2 linked regions of the Homo sapiens genome follow. The protein of the gene in region 2 interacts with the protein of the main gene of each other region in a biochemical or structural test. Each region holds a gene or a part of one and is shown on either strand. Other genes may lie near its edges.

The links.
Region 1: the proteins of MLLT10 (region 2) and EPS15 interact in a test that uses a peptide from one of them, tested with the Homo sapiens proteins (one large-scale study listed by BioGRID and IntAct).

The regions. Positions count from the first base shown.
Region 1 is NC_000001.11:51,358,656-51,362,475, forward strand, and holds part of EPS15 (epidermal growth factor receptor substrate 15), read right to left. Parts: intron 2,701-3,820; coding exon 2,516-2,700; intron 1-2,515. UniProt on the Homo sapiens protein: Involved in cell growth regulation. May be involved in the regulation of mitogenic signals and control of cell proliferation. Involved in the internalization of ligand-inducible receptors of the receptor tyrosine kinase (RTK) type, in particular EGFR.
Region 2 is NC_000010.11:21,536,964-21,540,783, reverse strand, and holds part of MLLT10 (protein AF-10), read right to left. Parts: intron 1,952-3,820; coding exon 1,872-1,951; intron 1-1,871. UniProt on the Homo sapiens protein: Probably involved in transcriptional regulation. In vitro or as fusion protein with KMT2A/MLL1 has transactivation activity. Binds to cruciform DNA.

The sequences.
Region 1 (3,820 bases), on a different chromosome or scaffold from region 2:
AAAATGCCTCAGCTGTTGTTCAAGACTCCTTCCAACCAGATTTGTTTTTTTTTGTTTTTTTTTTTTTTTTTGAGGCGGAGTCTCGCTCTGTAACTCAGCTTGAGGACAGTGGCACTATATCAGCTCCCGCAACCTCTGCCTCTGGGGCTTAAGTGATCCTCCCACCTCAGCCTCCCTAGCTGGGATTACAGGCATGCGCCACCATGCCTGGCTAATTTTTGTATTTTTAGTAGAGACGGGGTTTCACCATGTTGGCCAGGCTGGTCTCACACTCCTGACCTCAAGTGATCCGCCCGCTTCGGCCTTCCAAAGTGCTGGGATTACAGGTGTGAGCCACCCCGTCTGGCCCCAACAAGAGTTTGACTTGCTAAAACCATACTTAAGATATTAAATGCCACAAACTACCAGAGGGTTATTTTACACTAAGAGAATTATAACCTTCTAAAAAGGCCAATTTTTGATTCTCTGCTTGAAACAAATCAAATTCCATCTAATGAAAGTTAAGTCGGGCTGGATGCGGTGGCTCACCCCTGTAATCCCATCACTTTGGGAGGCCAAGGCATGCACATTGCAAGATCAAGGGATCGAGACCATCCCGGCCAACATGGTGAAACCCCGTCTCTACTAAAAACACAAAAATTGGCTAGGTGTGGTGGTGCGTGCCTGTAGTCCCAGCTACTTGGGAGGCTGAGGCAGGAGAATTGCTTGAACCTGGGAGGTGGAGGTTGCAGTGAGCTGAGATTACGCCACTGCACTCCAGCCTGGCGACAGAGCAAGACTCTGTCTTTAAAAAAAAAAAAAAAAAAAAGGAAAGTTAAGTAAGGCTGGGCGCGATGGCTCACACCTGTAATCCCAACACTTTGAGAGGCTGAGGCCGGTGGATCGCCTGAGATCAGGAGTACAAGACCAGCCTGACCAACATGGAGAAACCCCGTCTCTACTAAAAATACAAAATTAGCCAGGTGTGGTGGGTATGCCTGCAATCCCAGCTACTCGGGAGGCTGAGGCAGGAGAATTGCTTGAACCTGGGAGGTGAAGGTTGTGGTGAGCCAAGATCGCGCCTCCAGCCTGGGCAATAAGAGCAAAACTCATCTCAAAAAAAAAAAAAAATCAGTATAATTCTGGCACTCCATTTTTACAATATTCAAAATATTGATTCCTATTTTGCTCCTTCATAGTCAAGAGAAGCCACCAGAACTTAGAGTACAGATTCAAAAGCTGGGAGCTCAGTCGTCTTAGTTGCATGCAGATTCTTTTTTTTTTTGGAGACAGGGTCTGGCTCTGTCACCCAGGCTGAAGTACAGTGGCATGATCACAGCTCACTGCAACCTCCACCACCTCAGCCCCCCAAGTAGCTGGGACTACAGGTGCTTAAAGCACTTTGGCCTCTTAAAATGCTGAGATTACAGGCGTGAGCCACCACGCCCGGCCTGCATGCAGATTCTTGACTACCTCCCTTCTAACTAGAAACAGCTGCAGGAATAAAGCAATTGGTTGAATGGCCCAATGCTACACTGAGGAGGGAAATATTAGGCAGAGTTACCTGGCCACTAGATCTATTTCCAAAATCATCTCAAGGGCATAAGGTGATAAATAGAAGAAAATCTCTGTTTTATAGAACAGGCAATGATAACGAAGGTTATTTTGCCTGAAAAAACTGTGAAACTGAAAATTTGTTACCCGGTCTAAGAATTTTATTAAAAAATAACTTTTTTTACTGAATAATGATGGAATATATGACATTGCTTTATGTCTCTCTAGACTGATACCTCCATGGTTGGTTGCCCCATTTCTGTGATTTTATAGGCCCTGCTTATGCTGTTATCATGGCACCCTTCCACTGTTTCTAACGATCTTCCTATTTTAGACATCTCTGAAAGAACGCAGAGTAAACATGAGAAGTTAGTGAATTAGGGCCCTCCAAATAAAGATTGTTTAAATCCTGACAACCATTTATTTATTTATTTCATAAAACTGGCATTTACATTTTTAAAAAGCTACTGTGTAAGTTTAATAGTTTTACTTTCTATTCAAAGAATCTCTGGCTCTATCCTCTCATATAATATTTGCTGACTGGTCTCCAGAAATCATTAAAACTTTATACACAAACACACATACACAGCTGCAAATACACAAACTTATTACTGGCATTATTCATCTAGTGGGCAGAGAGCAATGACTCTGTAATTGTTCATTAAATCACCATCACCCATAACCATCCACAAAATAATAACTGTTAGGATTTTACTTACATTACCAAGACTAAGAGAAAGATTTACAAAACAACTTGTGTATATGACAAGAACTGGGACTACTAAAATCATCTGTGCGATGGAACAACCGTAGAACTGTCAAAACAGGATCAAACAGAGGTTTTGCTTGGGGGAAGAATGAAAGATCATTTTTAGTATCTTGGTAAATTTAGTTAAAATGATGCAAACTTGGCAGACTCCAAAATAATCTCTGAAAACTCTTTAAAGATTTCTCCCCCAAACAGCTCATTCACAGTACTTACAGCACTGAAGTTGGCAAAATTGCTTGGATCAGCCTCTTTATTGGTAGTGGTAGTAGCAGAAGTGAATGGATCACAAAATATTTCAGGATCTTTTTCTTTGGGGCTATCGTTGCCTGGGAAAGGCTGAAATGGATCATTCAGTTTAAAGGGATCAGGAGAATCCAATTTGTTGATGGATCTTTTCCCTGGATCAAAATCATTACAATTAATTCAACCAGTAAATACAGCAAATACAAGCACACAAGAACATGTACACAGATAGCATTAAAGTACTGTGGGTAGAGGATGATTGAGTACCTAAAACACATTCTGAATATTGTCTTAAATAGCTACACCAACAATTTGTCCTCAAATTCTTCACACATGATCTCTCAAATAGATTCCAGCTATGTGCAGCTAATGAAACAAATAGCAAAGTAAGGATGGGCCAGGAATCATATTTTTGTCCAAAGACTGAATCCCACCATCCCCTAGCCACACCCAAGCAGCATGTTCCCAAAAGGAGAGACGAATGGATTAAACAGAAGGAGAATAATAAAGAATAAAGACAGAAATGGCCTGCCTCTGCTGTTACAGCCCTCAGCCTGATAACAGTTATCCACTAGTGGCAGTAAGAGCAAATGACCTCTGAAAACTGGGAAAATTCTTCTGATTTTTCTCTAGTTCTACATACAATACCTAAGAGCATAAAATTTTTAAATTACCGTAGTAAAATGCTGCCAATTTTTTGTTATTTACTGTATTTCAAAATGAAGAAAAAATGTTTTGAAGCCCAGGGCCTAAATCTTTGCGGTTGCTGATCAAATAATCTCTGACCAAACAATAGTATTCTGTCCTATTAGTCACTCACTAATTCATTACCATTTTCAAACAAGTTCTCTAAGTCTTACTTAAACTTAGTACTTCTTGAAGAAAAGATAATAAAAATAGGGGTCAAAATATCTCCAAATATATTTTTTTCCTAAAATGCATAAGCTGGTAATAGCAATCATAACAACAGATTCCATCACTGTAGCTGCTTAGAAAAGATGCTCATATCTCAATGGATTCTTCCAATAATCCTGTGAAAGTAGGCAAAATTAGAATTACTGCCAACATTTAATAGCCAAGGGTCAGATATATGAAATTATACACTTAAGATCATAGTTAGTCAGGGAACATCCAGAAACAGAACCCAGATATTTAGACTCCCAGTTTAGTGCTCTTTCCAACAAACCAGTCTTTTCCTTAATCTTTTTACAATGATATACAATTACTTGGATGAAGATTCTTAGATTGAGCAAAAACACTAGCATATTATTTTAC
Region 2 (3,820 bases):
ACCTTCAGTCTAATTCCATAATCAACACCAAGGGAAAGGAATTTGCTATAACAAGATGTCTTGGAATAAATAATAAATCAATAAATATAATAAGATTTTAAAAAGGAACTATCATATTTTAAATGGTAGGTTTGCATAACTAATGAAAATAAAATCTATTTCTGATATTTTCAGAAATCCAAATGGGAAAAATGCTTGTGGATACAAAGGATAAACATACCTCCCTCACTGTGTTTTTTGTGAGACAGTCTCTCACTCTGTCACCCAGGCTGGAGTCATGGTTCACTGCAGCCTCAACCTCCCAGGTTCAAGCAATCCTCCTGTCTCAGCTTCCAGAGTAGCTGGGAGTACAGGTGCAAGCCACCACGCCCAACTAATTTTTTTTTTTTTTTGAAACAGTCTCACTCTGTTTGGAGTGCAGGCTGGAGTGCAGTGGCACAATCTTGGCTCACTGCAACCTCTGGCTCCCTCATTCAAGCGATTCTCCCGTCTTAGCCCCCAGAGTAGCTAGACTATAGGCACGCGCTGCCACATCCAGTTAATTTTTTGTATTTTTAGCAGAGATAGGTTTCACCATGTCGGCCAGGCTGGTCTCAAACTCCTGACCCCAAGTGATCCGCCCACCTCAGCCTACCAAAGTGCTGGAATTATAGGCATGAGCCACTGTGCCCAGCCCCAACTAATTTTTAAAATTTTTCTTTTGTAGAGACTAAGTTGACCAGGCTGGTTTCAAACTCCTGGACTCAAGCAATCCTCCTGCCTCGGCTTCCCAAAGTGGTGGGATTACAGGTGTGAGTCACTGCACCCGGCCTACCTCCTTTTTGTTTTTTTTTTTCCTTTCCTGAGAGTCTTGCTCTGTCACCCAGGTTGGAGTGCAATGGCATGATCTCAGCTCACTGCAACCTCCGCCTCCCAGGTTCACGCCATTCTCCTGCCTCAGCCTCCCAAATAGCTGGGATTATAGGGCGTGCCACCACGCCCAGCTAATGTTTGTAATTTGTTTTTCTTTTTTTTGAGACAGAGTTTCACTCTTATTGCCCAAGCTGGAGTGCAATGGCACCATCTCAGCTCACTGCAACCTCTACCTCCCGGGTTCAAGTAATTCTCCTGCTTCAGCCTCCTAAGTAGCTGGGACTACAGGTGCTTGCCACACCCAGCTAATTTTTGTATTTGTAGTAGAGACGGGGTTTCACCATGTTGGCCAGGGTGGTCTCCATCTTTTGACCTCGAGATACTCCCGCCTCGGCCTCCCAAAGTGCTGGGATTACAGGTGTGAACCACTGCACCCGGCACCTCCTTCATTCTTATAAGAGGTTTAGAAAAGTTCTGAAATAAGGTAACCACCCAAGTTAAAAAAAAAAAAAAAAAAAAGATTTTTATGTTGGTTTGCCAAAGGGACTGAATGCCTGAAATCAGTGAGTGTTCGAAGTTAAACTATACACCCAAAGATGTAGTAAAAGGAATATGATAGTCACTAAAATTATTGGGTTTTTTTCCCATTACACAAAACCTAAGAGAATTATCAATGTAACTTCCTTATGTTTCTATTTCCATTATATTTTAACTATGATTAGCCAGTGTAACCTTCAAACTTCTTCAAGCTTTCTTGATTCTGTAACTAGTTAACAAAGCCCAAATATGACTATGTATTTTTGTTTTCAAAGTATCCAAAATATACTCACTTGATTCCATTTGTTTTTCAGTTTTACAAAATCTGTTTAATACTCCAAGTCAATATTTGGCCTAAATTATCTCTTACATTATGATATTTGAAGAAATGACTGACAACCCCACAAACCACAACAGGAGTGCAGTTCCTAATTTCCTAACCTACTCACTAAAGTTTAATGTTTTTGATAAATAGTCCTTACCACTCTGGCTGCTCTCTCCTGAGATTCACATTTCCTGCAAAACCACGGTCCAGTGGGTACTTGAACAATGCCATAGCAAGCTGTTGAAAAATGAAATGTGTTAAAATGTTAAGATTCGAAGAACTATGGAAAAATCAAATACCCTTTCAAAGCCCTATTAATCCACCTGTCACTATTCAAGTAAACTACCTCTTTACAGAGAAGTAAAACAGTTCACATCCTATTTATCACATATACAGCTTACTTAATTAACAAGTAAAAATTTTAAATGCAACTCTTTTGTGTTACCTCATCTAAATAAATCAAGGCTGGGTGCAATGGTTCATGCCTGTAATCCCAGCATTTTGGGAGGTCGAGTTGGGAGGGCTGCTGGAGCCCAGGAGTTCCAGAACAGTCTAGGCAATACAGTGAGACTCCATCTCCACAAAAAAAAAAAATTTTTTTTAATTAGGCCAGGCGCAGTGGCTCACACCTATAATCCCAGCACTTTGGGAGGCTGAGACAGGCGGATCACCTGAGGTTGGGAGTTCAAGACCAGCCTGACCAACATGAAGAAACCCTGTCCCTACTAAAAATACAAAATTAGCCAGGCGTGGTGGCACATGCCTGTAATCCTACTACTCAGGAGGCTGCGGCAGGAGAATCGCTTGAACCTGGGAGGCAGAGGTTGCAGTGAGGTAAGATCGCACCATTGCACTCCAGCCTGGGCAATAAGAGTGAAACTCCGTCTCAAATTTAAAAAAAAAAAAAAAAAAAAATTAGCTGGGCACGGTGGCATGTGCCTACAGTCCCAGCTACTCAGGAGGCTGACTTGAGCCTGGGAAGTCAAGGCTGCAGTGAGCCATAATCACACCACTGTGCTCCAGCCTGGGCAACAGAGGGAGACCCTATCTCAAAAAAAAAAAGGTATGTTTATTTCTAAATACATAATGATGTGAATGCTCCAAATGATTTAATTATACATCACATATCTAATCACAGTCTTGTTTTAAAATTGGTTTTTAAAGTTAATAATTAGCTCAAAACTGAAAATTTTCTAAAACTCTAAAAACACTAATAACCAAGTAGACTTCTGCATGAGCTTGCTAGGCAGAAATATGAAAATATCTTAAATATTGGAAAGCATTTAAAGAATATAAATTCAGGTCGGACGCGGTGGCTCATGCCTGTAATCCCAGCACTTTGGCAGGCCGAGGCAGGAGGATCACCTGAGGTCAGGAGTTCCAGACCAGCCTGGCCAAGATGGTGAAACCCCATCTCTACTAAAAATTTTTTTAAAAATTAGCTGGGCATGGTGGCAGGTGCCTGTAACCCCAGCTACTTGGGAGGCTGAGGCAGGAGAATCACTTGAACTTGGGTGGCGAAGGTTTCACTGAGCCGAGATCACGCCACTGCACTCCAGCCTGGACAAGAAGAGCAAAACTCCATCTCAAAAAAGAAAAAAAGAAATTAGCCAGGTGTGGTGGTAGTGCCTGTAGTCCCAGCTACTCAGGAGGCTGAGGCAGGAGAATCACATGAACCCGGGAGGTAGAGGCTGCAGTGAGCCGAGATTGCCCCACTGCATTCCAGCCTGGGCGACAGAGGGAGTCTCCGCCTCAAAAAAATATATAAAGAAAGAAAGAATATAAATTCACAAAACAGAGTACTACCCACTGTACAATCACAGCAGAATATAAATTCAGTATAACTTTTTAAAACTCCAAAAGCTAAACTTCCACTTCCAGTTAAACATTTGTAGGACCAGGCAAGGCAGCTCATGCCTGTAATCCCAGCACTTTATGAGGCTAAGGCGGGCAGATCCCTTGAGCTCAAAAGTTCGAGACCAGGCCAGGTGCAATGACTCACACCTGTAATCCCAGCAGTTTGGAAGGCCAAGGCAGGCAGATCACCCTGGGGTCAGGGGTTCAAGACCAGCCTGACCAACATGGAGAAACCCCATCTCTACTAAA